2 separate regions of the Homo sapiens genome follow, and region 2 is linked to region 1. The links come from fine-mapping of genetic effects on gene expression. A gene starts in region 1. The other region holds a variant in brackets. All regions are shown on one strand. Distances are between the middles of the regions. Region 1 holds the start of KLHDC10 (kelch domain containing 10). Region 2 overlaps KLHDC10 (kelch domain containing 10).

What was found.
Region 2: its variant is fine-mapped to the expression of KLHDC10 in prefrontal cortex (ROSMAP, PIP 0.90).

Annotation. Positions count from the first base shown.
Region 1 is chr7:130,068,161-130,073,539 of GRCh38, forward strand. It overlaps KLHDC10 (kelch domain containing 10), which reads left to right and starts at 2,374. Exons shown (of 10, transcript NM_014997.4): 1 at 2,374-2,649. The coding sequence starts at 2,484. RefSeq lists enhancers at 1,889-2,088, 2,119-2,308 and a silencer at 2,409-2,578.
Region 2 is chr7:130,131,935-130,137,313 of GRCh38, forward strand. KLHDC10 (kelch domain containing 10) reads left to right here. Exons shown (of 10, transcript NM_014997.4): 10 at 1-3,771. Among named protein-coding and RNA genes, the nearest start is that of LINC03008, 7.1 kb to the right of the region's middle. The variant A/AAAAAAAC (reference allele first, on the strand shown) is at 3,249.

The DNA.
Region 1 (5,379 bases):
AGGCGTAAGCCCCCGCACCCGGCCATTGTATGTATGTATGTATGTATGTATGTATGTATGTATGTATGTATGTATGTATTTTTGAGACGGAGTCTTGCTTTGTCGCCCAGGCTGGAGTGAAAATGGCACGATCTCGGCTTACTGCAACCTCTGCCTCCCGGGTTCAAGCAATTCTCGTGCCTCAGCCTCCCGAGTAGCTGGGATTACAGGCACCCACCACCACGCCTGGCTAATTTTTTTGAATTTTTCGTAGAGACCGGGTTTCACCATGTTGGCCAGGCGGTCTTGAACCCCTGACCTCAGGTGATCCACCCACCTCGGCCTCCCAAAGGGTTGGGATTACAGAAAGTGTTAGGATTACAGACATGAGCCATCGCGCCCAACCAAAACTTTATATGTTATTTTCTTATTTCATCTCTCCCAGTTGATTAATTAAAAAGTGTTACTTAAGAATCTACTTTGGCTGGGCGTGGTGCTCATGCCTATAACCCAATGCTTTAGAAGGCCAAGGCAGGAGGATGGCTTGAGGCCAGGAGTTCTAGACTAGCCGGAGCAACAAGGCAAAACCACCCCCTCATCCCCACACACTGCCCTATCTCTACAAATTTGCTTTGCAAATTGGGAAAACAGCATTTCATAGGATTTCTGTGAGGATTAGACAGGTTAAACATGTAAAATGTGTAAGACTGCATTTTGCCTATATACATAAAAAACTGGCCAGACGCAGCAGCTCACACCTGTAATCCCATCACTTTGGGAGGCCAAGGCAGGTGGATTACCTGAGATGGGGAGTTGGAGACCAGCCTGACCAACATGGTGAAAACCCATCTCTACTAAAAATATAATTAGCAGAGCGTGGTGGCACATGCCTGTAATCCCAGCTACTTGGGAGGCTGAGGCAGGAGAATTGTTTGAACCTGGGAGGCAGAGGTTGCAGTGAACCGAGATCATGCCTCTGCACTCCAGTCTCGGCGACAGAGTAAGACTCCGTCTCAAAAAAAAAAAAAAACAGTTAACATATATTAATTTTGGTTTTTATATTTTAGAACCATAGGCTTTTTTTTTTTTCAAGTCTCAAACATTTTCATAAGCAGCGTGCTATGGTGCTAGTGACTAAAACATTTCTGCCTACAGGGACTGGAAGTAGGAAAACAAGGAGGCAGTGCCAGTGGCGACCAGAAATTTGCACACCAGGTACAAAGGGTATTTGTCCTCAGCTCCAGCAGAGTTTCTTTTTTTTCTCTGCAACCATGTAAGGTTCTTCTAATGCAAAAGAAAAAAAAATCTGTCACATCTAAGGACCTTGAAAAGTTTTGTTTCCCTTGAGGAATTTGATATGCTTTTTCCTTATCATTCAGAAACATCAGTGTATAGTATGTTTTCCCAGTCTGCATTGCGCCCAGTAAGTTTCAAGCCAAAATTTCTGTTTAATTTTGGAACAATAGAAACTCCTGATCGGCACATTAAAAATTTTCTTTGATCTTGATCTTCCATACCCGTTGCTGCCTTTTATTTAATTTTACATTTCCTCTTGATTATATATCTTCCAAGCTGATTAAAATTTTCTACTAGCCAAAAGGAGTTTGAGCGAACAAAAATATTTACAGAGCCATCAGCCATCTATGAGAATACCTTTTTCTTGGCATTCCACACACTGCCAGGTGTTATTTGAAAAGTCTTTACTGATGTAATAAACCAGAAATGGTTTCTCATTGGGGTTTTATTTTGTATTTCTAAGATTACAGGTGAGAGTGAACATTTTCCCATATTTGTTAACCAGGTTTAAAACTGTTTGATTGGGACGTGGCTTATACAGGGACAAATGCAGCTAAGCCGACTGAAAGACAAATGAAACCCAGGAATATCTGGTTCTTACATTTTAGCTTTGACTCCGCCCCTGGGTCCCCTCACCTACCCGGACCCCAAGCAAGCCCTTTGTGTGTGTCAACCATCAGTGAATGGGATCTCAATCTGAAAAGCTGGCAGAATACCGTCTTGCCCCCAAATATGTGTATTATGCGTATATCCAGTGTCTGATTGCAATGTTTATGGGAAAAAGTTCCTGAATCCTAACCAAGACTGAGGCACTGGCCGTCCCCGGGAGTCTTTCCGCAGGCGCGGCCTCTGACACTCGGTCTTCGATTGGCCCGCCTGGCCCCGCAGGAGTCGGGGTGACGCCGGCCAGCCCAGAGCGGACGATGAGAGCTAGGAGTGGCTGCTTCTGCCTTTCTCTCCCCCTACTTTTTTTTTTTTAGCCATAGCTATGGTTACCACGTTTCTCTCCGCCTCCCGCCACCTACCAAGAAAACGACTGACCATTGGCTGCCTTTCACCAAGGCGGTAAGTCATTGGTCTCTGGTGGGACCGGGCGCTGCCCCCTTCCCCTGTCTCCTGGGTCTCTGGAGGAGCCCAGGAAGGAGGCTCCGCTGGTTCCGCTGGGTCAGGCGCTGACGGGACCGGGCTGCGGCAATCGTTAGCGGGTCATGTCGGCCGCCCAGGGCTGGGACAGGAACCGCCGGAGGGGAGGAGGCGCCGCCGGCGCTGGTGGCGGAGGTAGCGGGGCCGGCGGGGGCAGTGGGGGCAGCGGGGGTCGGGGGACTGGCCAGCTCAACCGCTTCGTGCAACTCTCCGGGCGGCCGCACCTGCCAGGTGAGTCGTGGGACAGGGTCCTGACCGCTTGCGGGCGGGAAGGTGACTGCTACCTTTTCTTTTTCTCCCTGGCTTGCTTTTCCTTGGGAGGAGGAAAGGCAGGCCCCACGCATAGCAGAGGGACTGGGGATCAGAGAAAAGGGAAGGTGTCTTTGAGGTCAGGGAGGGAACAGGAGCACAGCGAAGAAAAGTATCTGTGCTCTGTTGAAAGCTCTGTGCTGAGAGTTGTGTTTTCTTTTCAAAGGAGAGGCCACTGTCTCATTGACATTTCCAAATGTTTCGGTTACTCGATTCCCAATCTCTTCCCCTTCCGCAGTTTGATCTTGTAAATGAAAGACATTGGCGCCTAGCTGTGGGAAATTATTTCAAAAAGGGTGCCAAGTTAAGGAGAGAAGAAGGAAACGCATTCCAAGGAGTGATTTTGTAAAAACTACACGGGGCGTGTGTGTAAGAGGCATTCTGAAACGGAAGAAAGGGGTGGGGGAGTGTTGGCTGGGGAGTGTATGGGAAAGAGAACCTAGAGGATTAGGGAAAACTAGTTGGATTATTAATATTTTGGAATGTTCAGAGACAGGATAATGGTGTCTAGGTTTTAAGGGGAGAAAGTGAAGATCAAAAATATACTTAGTGACACAATTATGCTGTGTTTACAATATAAAAACAACTGAGAATTGGAAAAATGTACCCAATACAATTATTTGACATTTTGGTCTACAGTGCCCTAGCCTTGAGTTCAGATGCTTTTGAAAACAAAATAAAATCAAGTGGATATGTATGTGTAGACAATTTTAAAGAGGTATGTTTGTAATTGAATATTCAATCTAGTAGAAGGAAGGTAGGGAATTAAATAATGCAGAGAACGTCAAATATCCCACTGGGCAAGCTTATTTTTACTATGAAAAGAACTATCAGGAATGATGTGTTAATTATTCATCGTGTTTTTTGTGAATAATATTGATTATATTAGTGATATATTTGTTTAGCTGATGAGTTTTGAGAACATGATGAATTGGTTTTTATGAATTGTGCTTAAGACTGTACCTTATACTTCTAGTCAAAAATTATTATTTGATTAAATTGAAGATGACAAAGGGAATTTAGCACATTTAATGAGACAATTGCTTATGTTCGTGATGAGGTTGTTGATGTGTGCTAGAAATGTACATTACCCCATTTATATGCATTAAATCGAGGCATTTGTAAGTAGTCATATAATATACCAGAAGTTGGGTTTGAGACGTTAATATCAGACTGGGCATCCTAGAATTGCTAAATATACGATCTTTAACATGAAAAAGAAAAAAGGAGCAATCTTTTTTCTTACTCCCAATTAATAATAAAAACTTAGATTTTTGTGTATTGGCAGCTTAGAAGATGAATCTCTTAGCAAACACTGTCACCAGTTTGCCCTCTACTACCGCAATCTTTAGGTCTTTGATCACGGATTAATTATACCATGGGCTTCAAGTAGGCATTCCTAGGTTCCTAGAACCTGCTTGGTGCACTTCCTCACTTCAACCACGTGATGGCAGTGGAAGCCATGATTTCTGCTAAGGGGCTTCAGTGTAGAGCTATTTCTGCATTCCCTTAGCACACAAGACCAAGAACAGCCATTTATCCGGAGGTAAAGATAAACGTGTCTAAACTGTGAAAATTTGTAAAGCGGGGTCATCAGTCTCTTTTTTCTGCTTCCCTTTTCTCTTGACTGACACTTCATTGCTCCTTTACTCATTCTCAAAATTGGGACACATCTGATACCTCAATGTATTATGTAGTTTGAAATTCTTTCATACCAATTCTTTATTCTGCTAGGTATTGCATTTTAAGCCTCTCCCTTTTCTTGCATTTTGATAGATTTTAAAAGATTTTAGGTGATGGGGAGGAATAGGATGTCTAGGCTTGGTTGACGGGCCTTGGAGATAAAACCTTTTATTTTAAATTTATTTATTTATTTATTTATTTATTGAGATGGAGTCTCACTCTGTCCTCCAGGCTGGAGTGCAGTGTCGCGATCTCGGCTCACTGCAACTCCACTTCCTAGGCTCAAGCAATTCTCCTGCCTCAGCCTCCTGAGTAGCTGAAATTACAGGCGCCCACCACCACGCCAGGCTAGTTTTTGTATTTTTAGTAGAGACGGGATTTTATCATGTTGGCCAGGCTGGTCTTGAACTCCTGACCTCAGGTGATTTGCCTGTCTCAGCCTCCCAAAGTGCTGGGATTACAGGCGTGAGCCACCTCGCCCAGCCAAATTTTTTATTTTTTTGAGTGTACTATAGCGGCTGGTCGTGGTGGCTCACATCTGTAACCCCAGCACTTTGAAAGTCCAAGGTGGGAGGATCACTTGAGCCTAGGAGTTCAAGGCCAGCCTGGGCAACAAAGCAAGACCACATCTCAAGTTAAAAATTAAAAAACAACAACAACAACAACAAAAAACTATAGTATAGCTCACTGTCTCTCTCTTTTGACCTCTAAATCCTATTTGTCTTTTTTTTTTTTTTTTTTTTGAGACAGAGCCTCACTCTGTGGCCCAGGCTGGAGTGCAGTGGCACAGTCTTGGCTTACTGTAACCTTTGCCTCCCGAACTCTAGCAATTCTCCTGTCTCAGTCTGCCAAGTAGCTGGATTAGAGGTGCGGGCCACCACGTCCGGCTAATTTTTTGTATTTTTGGTAGAGATGGGTTTTTGCCATGTTGGCCAGGCTGGGCTCGAACTCCTGGCCTCAAGTGATCCT
Region 2 (5,379 bases), 64 kb after region 1:
TGGGGGTAAAGCCACAGGTCATCCTTCCTGAAGAACCAAGTATCATTTAAAAACTAGCATGAGGAAGGAATGAAACTGAGTAGCATTCATTTTGTGTGTGTGAAATTTTAGTTCTGGTTTGTTTGATTTGTTTTTTTTTTAATTCTAAAAAGAATGACATAAATTTTCACTCGCTTTGCCATCTGGCTGCTAGGGGAGCTGAGCAAGAGGCTCACCATGCGCATGTGTAAGCCGCAGGTGTACTCAAGGTGCTGAAGGCGTGCAAGGGGCAGCGCTGGTCCTCCCGGGGCCAACTCACAGCAGGAGACTCGCATGGGAGAGTTGGAACACATCTTTCCTTTAAGTGCCTCTTTTTTCACCTAGCTTTTAAAGTTATTCTTTGTCCTTCATCTCAGAAGGGATCTCTTTAGCTTATGTGTGGATTTAAAATGACCTTTGAGCTACGGTTAAAAAGCTACCATCTGGTGTTCAGTTCTGGGAAAGAGAAAACCGTAGCCTCCAGACATGCTCCTGATTTCTAGGCCTTATCATACCATCCCCTCTGTGATGGGTTGAGTTCATGGAGCCTGTATTCTGGGAAGTCTTATAATAACCACGCACCTGTGAACGTGGGTCCTTTCTGGGGAGTGAGGAATGTGGGAGAGAGGCAGAAAAAGGAGCAGCTCCTCTAGGGGCCCATCCTCCCACATCTTGCCATTACCAGTCTGTGTAGCACTTAACCTCCTGCCACCACTGCCAGGCTTGCTCCTCCGTTCTCTCCCAGAGCAAGTCAGTCTGAGCAGCTCCATTAGTCCAAAACAGAGCTTTGCTGCATGACTTCAGCCTGGCCTCTGGATATTTGGTGGAAATATATTCTAAATTGAACAAGCCAGGCTGTCCAGGGTGGCAAGAGGATTTTTGACCTGGATTTATACAGGGACCAAAGACTGAATGCTCAGCCTCTGTGCTTAGACTTTCATGGTCCTTAGGATAGAAGTGAGTCTCTAGCCCTGCTACACCAGAGAGCTGAAGAGAGATGTGGTCTGGTTCCATCCATACTTGCTGGCATCCTTTGTTAAGCCTTCTGAGGGCAGTCTTCTTTGAGGTAGACCTTGGAGGCCTGACATCGAAGACCTGTGTGTTTTATTTTCATAAAAGTATATATCCTTGGTCTAAAGTGTCTTCTTTTAATATAACACTAGTAAAAATGACATGGTATGACCAGCACTGAGTGCTATAGAACCACACATGTGTACATGTTCTGGATGCCAAATGAGACTGTGTGTAAATGACTAAGTGTAGATAACTAGAAATTAGATAGGGGTCATCAGGCGTTTCGGTATACCTATAACCAGCACTCGGAATTCCTGACACTGTTTACTTGATTTAGGAAAGTTTATGCCTGCTGCTTCTCTGCCTCTTTGAGGTACTCCCAGCCGTCTTACTACAGTCCTGTAAATTTAAGTGCAATATATAGAAACATATGGATATATACAGATTATATATAGGGTGTAACTATAAAGCAGGTAGACTACTTTTTTGCATCTTGGGGAAGTGAGCTCATTACTTTAGGTTCAAATTATGCCAAGAATTTTAGATGTGATCAGCTGGCTTAAGCCAACTCATGTCATGATAAAGCTGGATTTTCAAGTCCATGTTTTCTTACTCCAACTCTTAGAGACTCATTGTTCCTTAGGTTTGTTAGAGTTGAGATTTTTTTTCTCCCTGTCATCTTTGTACTCTCTCATGTTTGCATGTCTTACATTTTGTTGCCGGAGAACAAGGAAGTCCATCTGTAAGGAGTTTCCTAAACGGAGAATTAAAACCTAGTATTTAACACTAACCATTCTCCTATGTATATACTAATTTATCTGGGAATGTAATACTTTATTAAATGAAGAAAATGATGCTTTCTTCATTTAATATTTTCCACATCCTGGAAAAACTATAAACTGACACAGAATAGGTTGAAATCTTAACTGGGGCTAAACAAAACCCTTTCCATTGGCAGAATCTCCTTTTTTCAGGGCCATAATGACATGATGTAAAAATTTGCTTTAAACCATTCATGCCCTTAAATAGCTAGATTTTAAAGCATAATAAGCATATTAACATTTTTAAGCAAAAGATACGTTAACAGTGACCTTTGGTTATCCACAGTAGCAAGAGTAAAGCACAGATCATTGAAATCCATAGATAATCAGTGAATCAACTTTCCTACCAAACAATAGATTCATTTACATTTCTTTTTCCTCCCTATCCTTTCCTGTAAGCACCTGTTTTTCCATGGAATGGGGTTAATGAGTAGGTAGAAAAGGAAAAGGAATAATCAGTAGGAGCTGACAACCAGTGACCATATAAGCAGCTGATTGCCTGTAATTAGTCAGGCTGAACAATTAGAGTTGAATGCTGAAATTAGGAACCACAGGTGGTAATCCTGAGTAGATGTAGCTCTTCAGCGTCATCTCCTGCCCTGAGCTCCAGGCCATCTCTCTAACCACCAAAGAACTCTTAGTACCTACGGGAAGGAAAAGCTGTGTGCGACACAGAGGAAACTCCATTATTTGAACACATTTCTTTGGCTCTTGACAAATACTTGCTTTTCCTCTAATCTTGCAAGAGCTATGGCTCTTCTATTTTCCAATCACACAGCTTGGCATGTAGGAAAGGTTGAATGATCCTCTAAGACTGTGTTGGTCTTCGTATTCTGTAAAACCCATTTTTTTTTTGTGGTCTTACAGATGTTTAGAAAGTGGCACAGGTTACTGAATTGTCTACCTGCCAGCATTCTGATATAGCACAAAAAGCTATTTTCCTTTATTTTTTGTATTATTTTTTATTTTTCTGGCATTGAGCTCTAGGGTGGATGAGGGTTTATGGTCCTCTGATCATAAGCTCCATTCTAAAAACTGGTCACTGTTAGCTGAAATTGCTTTGGTTCCCCAAATGCCTTGGAACTCCAGACGCACCCGCAGGGCCTGAGGTAGGCTTCATAGAGTTCTAGGACTTCCGTGTGCGTTGCCACCAGATCCTGCCCAGCAATGGCCTTTCCCTTCTAAGGTCATTAGATTCAGCCAAAAGCGACCTCTTCTCTAGTCCGGTGTTACGAACAGAAGTTCTGAGTTGTGCTACAAAAGTAGTTCCATCTTTTTGGTGTAATTTTCATGTTTTTAATTTGAAAAAAAAAAAAAAAAAAAAACAACTTTTTATAAGTTTTTTAAGGGCCCTGCTTAGTCAGTGTACAGGGTGGAGTCAGAGGCAGTTTTCAG[A/AAAAAAAC]AAAAAACAAAAAACAATTTCACCAAGCGGTAGTAATTGTTGTTTTACTAGTTATACATTTAGAATATAAAGGAGGCATCAGAAAACACACTCTCTAAAGCCACTTCCTTGTGCACAGAGTCTGCACAGGGAGAGCACAGGCATCTCCCTGGAAAAGCACCTGCCAATGACGAATTTCATGGAAGAACCTAGGCAAGAAAGGAAGCCTCTTTCTGAGACACAGTCTCTGAGAGGTGAGCCTAGCTTTGCTCTTCCTACAGGGTATGCTTGGGCCATACACAATGCTCGCCTTACTTTAAAGCTATTTTGCCACAGTCCTGTTAAATAGTGTGGACGTCCTTTTGCAGTCTGGTGTGCATGCCATATGATCAGGACAGCTTTTCCACTTTACTCGGTTTCCTACAAGCAAGTAGGAAATACAGTGAATTTACCCTAAAATGTCCAATCTGTATTTATGTACCTTGTCAGTGTTTTGCTGTTGGTTTTCTAAAACAATCTGATCAATAAATCTTATCCAAATCAATTTGGTTCAAGTTCACCTTGATTGTCTAATGGTAATTTGTGTGTACGTGAGCGCACCTATATGACAGAAGCGTCAGTCCTACCCACCTCCACCAGGCTCAGCTTTTCTCTGTAATATCTGTGAGTCATCTGCCTTCCACCCCCACTCCACTGTGGGTTCTTTATCTGCTCATTATCTGGAACTCCTGGACACACAAGAGTTCCCTCACCAGCACACTGCTCCCTCCACAAAGACATCAGCAAGGGAGCAACTGTCGGGCAGCCCACACTCCCTCTCACTGCCCCACCCCATGTTCCCCAAACCACTGCTAGACAAGTTTGTATAGGTATATCAAGACTTTTCTGAAGGGTTGGAAGAGCTACAGAGAATTCAAAGGGAAAATGTGAACCCGTATATATAGTCATCTGACTGTCTTTATGATCTGAGGGAAGAGCCCCAGGAGCTGCTGAGCCCTGTGCAGGGGTCCTCTGGGGGTGAAACTACACTTCCTAGCTCTGCCCTTGGTCTTCCAGATGCTTCCCTCACCAAAACAAACCTCTGTTTTATGATGCTGTGATCTCTAATCCTCTAATCCTTCTCCATGCAGTGCTTTTCTCCATGTCTGTGTAGTCCAGAGTAGGTAGGGAAGGATACTCCCAAGTCTGGTCACTTTTAAGGTCTCCCTTCTAGAACTGAACAGATGCCTTGTATTTTTCAGTGTTTCCATTGGTTAACTATTGGATCAAACACACCTTCCATGGACAAATAATCTTAGATATTACAATATACATCTACAAGGAAGAAGAGAAACAATTTCTACCCATTCATCCACCTTACAGTTAATACTTTATTATGCAGAGCAGTCTTCTTTCCTTGGGTTTATTTCTCCTAACTATACTCCTCTCCAAGCTACCAGATATAAGAAATGCACCCTATACCTTTCAGTCTTCAGACCAGCCAGAGCTTTGAAATGGACTCTTATGTGCATCTGATTTGGTTCTTAGATAAGGCATCTAAGACCCATCTTGGCCTAGTGGGAGGAGTTTCAGTGGCCTAGTTGGTTTGCGTGGTTTTGTTCTTCCAGTTTATGTGTATATAATTCTAGTTTGTTAAAATGATGTTGTTAAGCTACTTTAACAACAACCACATTCTCTTGTAGTTAATCTTCTGCAGTAATTGCTTGAGGGAAGAAAACATTGGTAAAACCATCCAGTTTCCCTACTGCCTTCAAATGAAAGGCCAGGTTCTAGCCCAGTGCTAGAGCAATAAAGCTTTCTGCAATGGTGGAAATGTTCTGTATCTGCACCACCCAATATGGTGGTAGCCACAAGCCACATGGGGCTTTTGAGTACTTCAAATGTGGCTAGTATGGCTGAGAAACTGAATTTTTAATTTGATTTAATTTTCATGTATTTATAGGGAAATAACCACACATGGCTAGTGGCTACCTCTTAGTGCAATTCTAGGAAGAGATGACCTGGGGGTTAGGAGACAAGGGCTCTGCTCTTGGCTCAGTCCATAATAGCCCTGTTCTGTATGCAACTTGCTTTTCTTTGGGTCTTGGTTTACTTATCTGTCAAATAGGAGGAGGTTGGCTAGATAATCCCCAAGATCTAACATTATTTAGGA